Linked DNA regions of Homo sapiens: region 2 is linked to region 1. Evidence: fine-mapped expression QTL. A gene starts in region 1. The other region holds a variant in brackets. All regions are shown on one strand. Distances are between the middles of the regions. Region 1 holds the start of IRS2 (insulin receptor substrate 2). Region 2 overlaps COL4A1 (collagen type IV alpha 1 chain).

Region 1 (5,308 bases):
ACAGTTGGAAAATCACAAGGTGTAGAACAAGCTTTAAATAAATAAATAGCTTATCTGGCAATAGAAAGGGGGAAAGAAAACAAGTTCCTCGGTTGAGGAAGAGGACTGGGATACTTCTAATTACAGAGTTTCTTACTGTTGGTTTGTTTCATGGGCTGACTCTCAATGAGAATTGAAATTGTATCATCCACATTTGTATTTGGAGGTTCTAACTGCAGAATTGCAATTAATTTCCAGTTTGCTGTAGGAAATTTATACTCTCTATGACAGAATACCACGGACATAGGTGATAATTCTTTAACCTTCTCTCTTTTGTCCCCAGTCTGGTAACTGAGGCAGTACATGGGGAAAGTGCTAACTGCCAATCCAGAGCTGCTGACACCTTAAAAACACTGGCCTTTAACACTAGGATGGCCCCAAGAAACAAGCAAACAGGAAAAGATGACACCTGCTAGCGTGTGACAGGCACAGCAAGTAAATGTTCAATACGGATATGAAAATGCAACTGCATAATAAAAGTCAACATGAAAAAGAAAAAGATTGCAAAATATACTTTCTCAGAAGAAACCATCACATGATGTTTAAAAGTGGTGGTTCCTTTAGCATTGTCTACTGATGGCTGGCAACATACAGGAACATAGAGGTGGCCCATTTACATCCTCATAAAAGTGGGATGTAAGTGATCACAAAGCCAATAAAACTACACCACATTTTCTTCAAGCACCAAGATAAGAATCCCTTCATCTTTCCTGACTAGACATATTGCTAGGCAACATTTGTGAACGTAAGAAAAGGTAACAAGATCTAAAAAGAACGCCGAAGCATAATGTTCATAAAGGTGGCGCCCCCAACACACACAATCATACACACATACCTATACACACACAATCACACAATCTATTATATAAACAAACACGCACACATGCACACATAGGTGCACAGACTTAAAATGGCATTTCTTGAGGTATTTTTTTTTAAGGTATGATTTAAAAATGGAAGATCAACTTTAAACACACCTTTTTGAGGCACACTGGGTGATATTTGCCACAATGATTATTCTTCCCAAATTCAGGCTACTGATCAATAATCCTAACTGTATACATGCTAAAAATAAAAACGCTATAATCTTTGTACTAGTCAGGGCTCTCTTGGCACATAAAATTAGCCAACACAATCTTCAAGTCACATGTTACAAAAACATATTAAAATATATATCACTCTTTCAAAAATTACACTTATTTTCTCTTAGATTAAGATTTTATTACTTTTAAGATACTTCTATGAATTATAGAGGACATCCAAAAGTAAACATCCGGGACTTAAAAACAATAACCAATATTATAAGATAAATTATTGCTGTAAATTATTTCATGAAGGCACAATTAAAAAAAAAATAAAATAAACAGCCAAAGCCTGTTTTGTTGAGTTTTCTTCGTTGCGCAGGATCGGGAGCTTGCTGGGATCTGAACTCAGGAAGCCCTCACCTCACCCTGACTTGGTCATTGAGGAGACGTAATTGCAGGGGTGCTTATTTGCTATAGGCTTTGAAAGTCACAAAAGCCCAGTAGATACATGAATTCGAAGCAGTTCTCCAAGGGCATCTCCAACTTGGCAGTCACCGCCCGCACCGCGCACACAGGTAGTGGACGCCCGCCCACCTGCCCGTCTGCTGGGCGCAGGGCGCTCCTGGGGTGGGGAGGGCGCTCCTGTGGGGGGAAAAGGGGCGCTCCTGCCTCGGAGGGGGAAAGGACGCCCCTGTGGAAGGAAGGGGGGGCTCTTGAAGCGGTGTGGTGAGAGGACGCTTCCGAGGAAGGAAGGGGGTGCTCCTGCAGCGGTGGGGGGAGAGGACGCCCCTGCGGAAGGAAGGCGGCGCTCCTGCGGGGGCTGGAGAGACGCCCGCGCGGTCTCCCGGCTCAGGGACCGCTGGCTCGCGGGTCCGCCCTCTCCCCGGCGCTATGGAAACCGCACTTTCTCCGCCTGCCGTCCCCGATCTCTTTCTCCTATTACCTCCCAAACGCGATTTCAACTTCCCGACAAGCTGACAAGTGAATGGCGCAGAGGACGCCCCGTAAAGCGCCCGCGAGCGGGTGGGACACAGGCGCCCCCTCCGCGCCCCTCTGTCCTCCACGGAAGGGCGCGCGCCGCTCTCGATCTGGAGCGCGGTGCTCGCGAACCCGCGGCCGCGGGCCCTGGAACCTCCCCGCGTTTCGCGGCTGCGGGGGGACGGAGATGCGGCCGGGAGACGGGGACGGGAAACGGGGGACGGGGATGGGGCGCGCCCACCCCGAGCGCGGGAGCGGCCGCCCTCGCCCAAAATGGGGACCCCGCGCCCCGAGAGCACGGCCCGGCTCGCCGCCCATGCTTCCACTGCAAGGCCGCAGCCCCCGCCGCCGATCCCGATCCCCCGCCCCGCCCAGCCGCGGCCCCGCCCGGCGCCCCCTCCCCGGCGGAAGCTCAAGCCCAATTAATTGAGTCCGAGGCGGGAGGGAAGGGCCCTGCGCGCCGTGGCCCGCCCCGCCCCTCTTCCGCGCCCCTTTTCCCGCCCTGGGTGGCATCTCCTCCGCCGGCATCCACAACAAGCCGCTGATTAATGAGGCCGGGGCCGCCCCACCCCGCCCGGCCGGGCCGGGGCCTTCGCGGGAGGGGGAGGGGACGGCGGGAAACGCGGCCCGGGGAGAAAGGGGGGCGGGGCGGGGGCGCGCGGCCCGCCCCCGCGAGCGCCGCGCCGATTGGCCGAGCGCGCCGTCCGTCGGGGGGCGCGGCGCCAATGCGAGGCAGCGGGGCGGGGCGGCCGCGCTGTGTGTGCCTGCGTAACGCCGAGTCACATGTTGTTTTGCTCTTCTTAGTTCAGTCACTCGGTGCGCGATGTGTTACTCACTGTGCGGCGGGGACCGCGACGAGCCCGGGTCGCCGTTGGCAGCAGCAGCAGCAACACCAGCAGCAGCAGCAGCCCCGGCGGCGGCGCGGACCCCGAGCGCCCGGGCGCACCCCGGCTTCCCGGAGCGCGACGCGGCGGCAGCAGCCCCGGTGCGGCCGCGCGCGCCTTAGGCTCGGCCCCGCGGCTCGGGGACCCCGACTCCCGGCCCAGCGAGCGCGTCCCCCGGCGCCGCCCGAGAGCCCGAGGAGGCAGCGGCCGCAGGCAGCCGGGGAGGGGGGCGGCCACCGCCCGCGCCGGGCATCCTCAGGAGCCCCAGAGCGCGGAGGGCGCGGCGCCGCCGAGCGGTGCTGGCCCCCGCGGGCCTCCCCGGACCTTCCCCACCGCCTGGGCCCGAGGGACGCGTGATCGGGCGGGCGGCCGGGCGCAAGGGTGGGAGGGAGCCGCCCCCGCCCGCGCCCCCTCCGCCCCTCGCCCCAACCCCTGGGCGCCGGGCCCGGGCCGCGCGGCCTGAAGCGCCCGCGATGGCGAGCCCGCCGCGGCACGGGCCGCCCGGGCCGGCGAGCGGAGACGGCCCCAACCTCAACAACAACAACAACAACAACAACCACAGCGTGCGCAAGTGCGGCTACCTGCGCAAGCAGAAGCATGGCCACAAGCGCTTCTTCGTGCTGCGCGGACCCGGCGCGGGCGGCGACGAGGCGACGGCGGGCGGGGGGTCGGCGCCGCAACCGCCGCGGCTCGAGTACTACGAGAGCGAGAAAAAGTGGCGGAGCAAGGCAGGCGCGCCGAAACGGGTGATCGCTCTCGACTGCTGCCTGAACATCAACAAGCGCGCCGACGCCAAGCACAAGTACCTGATCGCCCTCTACACCAAGGACGAGTACTTCGCCGTGGCCGCCGAGAACGAGCAGGAGCAGGAGGGCTGGTACCGCGCGCTCACCGACCTGGTCAGCGAGGGCCGCGCGGCCGCCGGAGACGCGCCCCCCGCCGCCGCGCCCGCCGCGTCCTGCAGCGCCTCCCTGCCCGGCGCCCTGGGCGGCTCTGCCGGCGCCGCCGGGGCCGAGGACAGCTACGGGCTGGTGGCTCCCGCCACGGCCGCCTACCGTGAGGTGTGGCAGGTGAACCTGAAGCCCAAGGGTCTGGGCCAGAGCAAGAACCTGACGGGGGTGTACCGTCTGTGCCTGTCTGCGCGCACCATCGGCTTCGTGAAGCTCAACTGCGAGCAGCCGTCGGTGACGCTGCAGCTCATGAACATCCGCCGCTGCGGCCACTCGGACAGCTTCTTCTTCATCGAGGTGGGCCGCTCGGCCGTCACAGGCCCCGGCGAGCTGTGGATGCAGGCGGACGACTCGGTGGTGGCGCAGAACATCCACGAGACCATCCTGGAGGCCATGAAGGCGCTCAAGGAGCTCTTCGAGTTCCGGCCGCGCAGTAAGAGCCAATCGTCGGGGTCGTCGGCCACGCACCCCATCAGCGTCCCCGGCGCGCGCCGCCACCACCACCTGGTCAACCTGCCCCCCAGCCAGACGGGCCTGGTGCGCCGCTCGCGCACCGACAGCCTGGCCGCCACCCCGCCGGCGGCCAAGTGCAGCTCGTGCCGGGTGCGCACCGCCAGCGAGGGCGACGGCGGCGCGGCGGCGGGAGCGGCGGCCGCGGGCGCCAGGCCGGTGTCGGTGGCTGGGAGCCCCCTGAGCCCCGGGCCGGTGCGCGCGCCCCTGAGCCGCTCGCACACCCTGAGCGGCGGCTGCGGCGGCCGCGGGAGCAAGGTGGCGCTGCTGCCGGCAGGGGGCGCGCTGCAACACAGCCGCTCCATGTCCATGCCCGTGGCGCACTCGCCGCCCGCCGCCACCAGCCCCGGCTCCCTGTCGTCCAGCAGCGGCCACGGCTCGGGCTCCTACCCGCCGCCGCCCGGCCCGCACCCGCCTCTGCCGCATCCGCTGCACCACGGCCCCGGCCAGCGGCCCTCCAGCGGCAGCGCCTCCGCCTCGGGCTCCCCCAGCGACCCCGGCTTCATGTCCCTGGACGAGTACGGCTCCAGCCCAGGCGACCTGCGCGCCTTCTGCAGCCACCGAAGCAACACGCCCGAGTCCATCGCGGAGACGCCCCCGGCCCGAGACGGCGGCGGCGGCGGTGAGTTCTACGGGTACATGACCATGGACAGGCCCCTGAGCCACTGTGGCCGCTCCTACCGCCGGGTCTCGGGGGACGCGGCCCAGGACCTGGACCGAGGGCTGCGCAAGAGGACCTACTCCCTGACCACGCCAGCCCGGCAGCGGCCGGTGCCCCAGCCCTCCTCTGCCTCGCTGGATGAATACACCCTGATGCGGGCCACCTTCTCGGGCAGCGCGGGCCGCCTCTGCCCGTCCTGCCCCGCGTCCTCTCCCAAGGTGGCCTACCACCCCTACCCAGAGGACTACGGAGACATCGAGA
Region 2 (5,367 bases), 380 kb before region 1:
CACATGCCCTGAGAAGTGGAACCCAAGGAAGGAGAGGGGAGGGAGGGTGTGTGGAAGGTGAGGGAGGGTGTGTGGAAGGGGAGGGAGGGTATGTGGAAGGGGAGGGAGAGTTGAGGGTATTGGGCTGAAAACGGGGAGGCTGAGGGGAACTCGCACTTTGTGTGGTTCTTACCACATGCCAAGACTTGCCATGCAGAAGAAGGATTAAGTTCATTCGTCACTCAAAGATCAGGACCAGTGTGATACTATACAGTAAGGCAGGTTTCAGATGAGTGTGGGAAAAATGTCCTAATCGCAGAGTGGCACTCTCCACGTCAGAAGCGGGGGCTGCTTGGGAAGAACAAGCTTCTCTCCCTGCTGGGAGGGCTGGCATGAGGCTGCAGGGCAGTTGTCAGGGGTCCCAGAGCCCAGAATGCAGTGGGAAGTTACGCTGATGCCCCAATGCCTTTGCCCGAGAGTTCAGGATTTCAGGTTAAATAATAAAGATGTGCAGATTGGACATGTTTTGTGAAGATCTGATTACCTGGGTTTTGATAATGACTTTACCTTTGAGAAGTACGTTCCATTTGGATAGCTTCACCCGGGATTCTCCTTCTAAAGTTGTTTCCGCCCCAGTATGTGGACAGTGAAATTGATCAATGCCTTCCCTATTCCCACAGGTCTCCCGGGTCCTCCTGGCCCCCCAGGTCCTTACGACATCATCAAAGGGGAGCCCGGGCTCCCTGGTCCTGAGGGCCCCCCAGGGCTGAAAGGGCTTCAGGGACTGCCAGGCCCGAAAGGCCAGCAAGGTGAGAAGGCTTGGCCTGTGCAGGGCGGTATGGGGAGCCCAGAGGGGCAGTGGTCAGAGTTCCTCCTCACCCATGTATCTAAAATAAGTTTCTGGGTAATGATTATACACACACATATGAATATGAGTTTCTTACCTCCCTTCAATGCATATCAAAACCTATGACATTTTTAAAGGGACCTAAAAAAAATCCAGAAGAAAACCCAGGAAAAGCTAGAGGAACACATAACAACACATCTGTGTTCAGTTAGAAAAACATGGGCTCAAAGAACCAGATCATTACCTTTCCCCCTCCTGCCTCCCGCTCCAGATGGGGGTGGCATGTAGCAATCTGGAATGGTAAAAATCGGTGCTCTCCATCCATGCCCCCAGGAGCGCTGCCTGATTGGCACTGTCTGTACAATTCTCTGTTATTTCCTGAAACCCTAACATAGTCTTCTGCTTATTTGAGTGAAACATCTCCTATTTGAAGAGCTACTGATAAGGAGTGGGTGGGAAGTAAAGGAGAATGAAAACATTTTAAAGTTGAAAGCATCAAAGAAAATTTAATGATACTTAAGAATAAGCTAGCCAGGCTCACTGGGTCACACCTATGTAATGCCGGCTTTTTGGGAGGCTGAGGTGGGAGGATCACTTGAGCCCAGGAGTTCAAGACCAGCCTGGGCAACATAGGGAGAGTCTGTCTCTACAAAATAATAATGATAAAATTAGCCAGGTGTGGTAGTGCATACCTGTAGTCCCAGCTACTCGAGAGGCTGAGGTAGGAGAATCGCTTGAGCCCGGGAGGTCGAGGCTGCAGTGAGCGGTGGTCACACCACTGCACTCCAGCCTGGGTGACAGAGCGAGACCCTGTCTCAAAAAAAAAAAAAAAAAAAAAAGAGAGAGAGAAAGAAAGAAGAAGAACAAGCTATGTACATGAAAACAAAAAAACTATCCATGTTGGTATATCTGTTGCCTAAAAATTGAGACCCCAGTATATGGCTGAGAGGGAAAGTTATCCAGTCTCTCATTCCCTCCACATCACCTGCCTTTTCCAAACCAATCTGCCAAACAGCAAGAAACCAGGGAGAACTCAGAACGAGGTGCCCAAACACACACCCCCTTATGAATATCCAGCTGCTTCTGCAAAGTCTGTACTCGACTTTGTGGGAAGCAACTCCTGGCTGTCCGAGAAAACGTTCTCATCTGCAGTGAGACTTTATGCTTGGCTCCTTGAACACTGAAAAGGACATTTAAGAAGGGAAGAAAGAGATACAGCTTACTGCCATACAGGATCATAAATTATTTTTCCTCTGCCTCAGGTGTTACAGGATTGGTGGGTATACCTGGACCTCCAGGTATTCCTGGGTTTGACGGTGCCCCTGGCCAGAAAGGAGAGATGGGACCTGCCGGGCCTACTGGTAGGTTGCGAAACTTCCAACGTAATTACCCTTGACCAGGATCTTTGGGATAGAAGGAGCAGAACCAGGCATGGGGAAACAGCAGAATGAAGTTGGATATATCACTTGACAGATTTCCGAAGAAGTCTGTTTCTTAGAAGAAATAGAATCAAATAGAAGAGCTGAAGAAGTGTTCTTTTTTCTGTGTAGAGACAGATATTGATCAAAGTGTACGTTTCCCAGATGTTGTTGAAAGGCAGCCAATAGTGGTGGCCCATGTGGTTTCCTAAGTGGGATGTGAGCTGCAGCTGTGAAAATTCTATTTCAGCAAAGGACAAGGGAAGTAGAAATGAAAATAATGCCAGCATTGGCCCAAAGGCATGGGATGAACTTGATCTGCTTCCTTAGGAGAAGGCACACTCGAGTGTCCGGTGAAGGCTATGATGCAAAAGGCTGAGGCCACTGACTAATTGAACAAAGAGCTCAGCCCAGCAGACCTGGGCACAGTTTGGCACGTGGCACAGTTAGAGAGGGGACAGAAGCAGGCCTTGCCTGCGAGGTCCCTTACTGCTCCATTTCCATACGCAGGCTTTGGGCTGCTATGGAGGAAGAAACACCTTAAGATGAGGTTGTTTAATAATTCTATGATAGTCCTCCCCAACAGGAGCCCCACGATTCCGTGTGAATGACATGCACAGAGTCACGTCATTCATTTATTTTCATTTATTCATATATCCATTTTCATATGTGTCATATATTCATTGAACTAAATTGTTCAAGCATCTGCTCTGCACCGAGAACTGTGCTTATAAAAATATCTTGAGGTGGCAGGTAAAAAGAAAAAGTTAAGACACCATGAAGGAGGTAGGCTGCTGTATTTAGTTAGCCATGCATTCTTTTTAGACTT[T/C]TTTGGTAACATGAATAGGTAGGATACTTTGTGGAAATATAAAATATTAAAAACTCTTTGGAGAAAATGATTTTGAAAGCCTTTAGGGGAGCGTGTTTGTAATTAGGGAAACTAATTTGTCTCCTATCTTCCAGGTCCAAGAGGATTTCCAGGTCCACCAGGCCCCGATGGGTTGCCAGGATCCATGGGGCCCCCAGGCACCCCATCTGTTGATCACGGCTTCCTTGTGACCAGGCATAGTCAAACAATAGATGACCCACAGTGTCCTTCTGGGACCAAAATTCTTTACCACGGGTACTCTTTGCTCTACGTGCAAGGCAATGAACGGGCCCATGGCCAGGACTTGGGTAAGAAGCCTGCAGATCCATGCATTCATTCAGTGTAGGTGTGTTGAGTGCCTTCGGTGTGCAGTGCTGGACTCGCCTCTGCTGCTGCAGTGAGGGCAGTAGCGAGTGAAACACTGCGCCATGAGGGCGGTAGCCAGTGAAAAAGCAGCCCGGCCCCATTTCCCTCCATTGATTACAAATAATCGGTTCAACAGCTGCTGTATTACTAATGGCAAGCCAAGAAATGTGGAGACTGAATCTTCGAAAATCTTTAAATTAATAAAACTTTAGATCTCATCTTCAAATTATCAAGTAGGATCAAGATTCCTGGAGTGCACTTAACAATTTGCATTGATGCGGCTTAACCATTGCTCTTTGTAAAAAAAAAGGTCCATGTTATCCTGTCTGAAATTCTCTACAGCTGCTGAGCTCTGCTCCTCTAGTTTAGATCAGCAGAAAGCTACATATCTGTCCTCATTATCTTAATCTGACCCAGATATCCTCCACCAAACTGTGTTTTAATTTTCTCTGCCTTTAACTTTTATCAGGGTTAGAATCAGCAAGCTGCTATAGAAAGAGCATCTGCATTTTCTGCAAAACTGTTGTGAAAGACATTGCCCAATTTGTTACTATCCATCGTATAACGAACCATGTGTTAAGTTCCTTCTAGAATTCAGCTTTAGGAAAAGGTTTCTTTGTGCTGGTAAACTGGTTTTGTTTCCTTTCATCAAAAATGTCCTACATAATCCTTTATACATTTCCATTTCAGTGATTATGTTGATTATATGTTTTTGCTTGTTGTCCAGCTGAAATCCACTTTACATAGAGATAGATTGTGAATTATAAAGGAAACATCTCACATTGTCTTCTTCCTTGTCTAGGCACGGCCGGCAGCTGCCTGCGCAAGTTCAGCACAATGCCCTTCCTGTTCTGCAATATTAACAACGTGTGCAACTTTGCATCACGAAATGACTACTCGTACTGGCTGTCCACCCCTGAGCCCATGCCCATGTCAATGGCACCCATCACGGGGGAAAACATAAGACCATTTATTAGTAGGTGAGTCGAGCATCTGTAGGAACAAATGCAAAATTGAAGAGGAAAAGTCTCTAGTCTGGACAAGCATATGTTTTCTATTTTTCTCCAAAACGTTGAATCCATTGCCATTTAGCTTATTATTTGTGATATTCGAGTTTTGTAATGGAAATCTACCATAAAAATTATTTGACATAAAAGTCAGTTGGCTGGGCACAGTGGCTCATGCCCGTAATCCCAACACTTTGGGAAGCCGAGGCGAGAGGGTTGCTTGAGCTCAGGAGTTCAAGACCAGCCTGGGCAAGATGACGAGACTTCATCTCCACAAAAAATACAAAAGTTAGCTGGGCGTGGTGGTGTGAGCCTGTGGTCCCAGCTACGAGGGAGGCTGAGGTGGGAGGATCACTTAAGCCTGGGATGTTGAGGCTGTAGTGAACTGAGACCACACCACTGCACTCCTGCCTGAGCAACAGAGTGAGAACCTGTCTCAAAAAGAAAAAAGAGTCAGCTATTCTCTTTTAAAATTGTGGTGCAAAACCATGGTGAGATAATGCCAGGCTTGCAGAGATAATTTATATTTTGCCTGACTCACTGTGGTGGTTGCCTTTCCTCCTGTGAGCAAGGTGATGCCACTCGATTCTTCAGCAAGCGTTGGAACAGTGTTGCTCAATCTTTCTTTTTAAAAAGTAACAGCTTCCCCAAGGAGCCTTTTAAGACATTGTTTTCTGAATCATCCCTGCCCCTATGAATTTTTTTTTTTTTTTTTGAGACGGAGTCTCGCTCTGTCACCCAGGCCGGACTGCGGACTGCAGTGGCGCAATCTCGGCTCACTGCAAGCTCCGCTTCCCGGGGTTCACGCCATTCTCCTGCCTCAGCCTCCCGAGTAGCTGGGACTACAGGCGCCCGCCACCGCGCCCGGCTAATTTTTTGTAT

What was found. PIP is the estimated chance that this variant, and not a neighbour inherited with it, causes the effect.
Region 2: its variant is the best candidate, but not a certain one, in a credible set for the expression of IRS2 in whole blood (INTERVAL, PIP 0.58).

Annotation. Positions count from the first base shown.
Region 1 is chr13:109,784,145-109,789,452 of GRCh38, reverse strand. It overlaps IRS2 (insulin receptor substrate 2), which reads left to right and starts at 2,870. Exons shown (of 2, transcript NM_003749.3): 1 at 2,870-5,308. The coding sequence starts at 3,400. LOC124903211 (WAS/WASL-interacting protein family member 1-like) reads right to left here and starts at 2,369. Exons shown (of 2, transcript XM_047430835.1): 1 at 2,008-2,369; 2 at 1-1,853. The coding sequence starts at 2,360. The coding sequence ends at 1,616. RefSeq lists silencers at 2,473-2,642, 2,663-2,892 and an enhancer at 3,734-4,363.
Region 2 is chr13:110,160,283-110,165,649 of GRCh38, reverse strand. COL4A1 (collagen type IV alpha 1 chain) reads left to right here. Exons shown (of 52, transcript NM_001845.6): 46 at 660-788; 47 at 2,089-2,187; 48 at 3,208-3,420; 49 at 4,281-4,458. Among named protein-coding and RNA genes, the nearest start is that of LINC03082, 34 kb to the right of the region's middle. The variant T/C (reference allele first, on the strand shown) is at 3,074.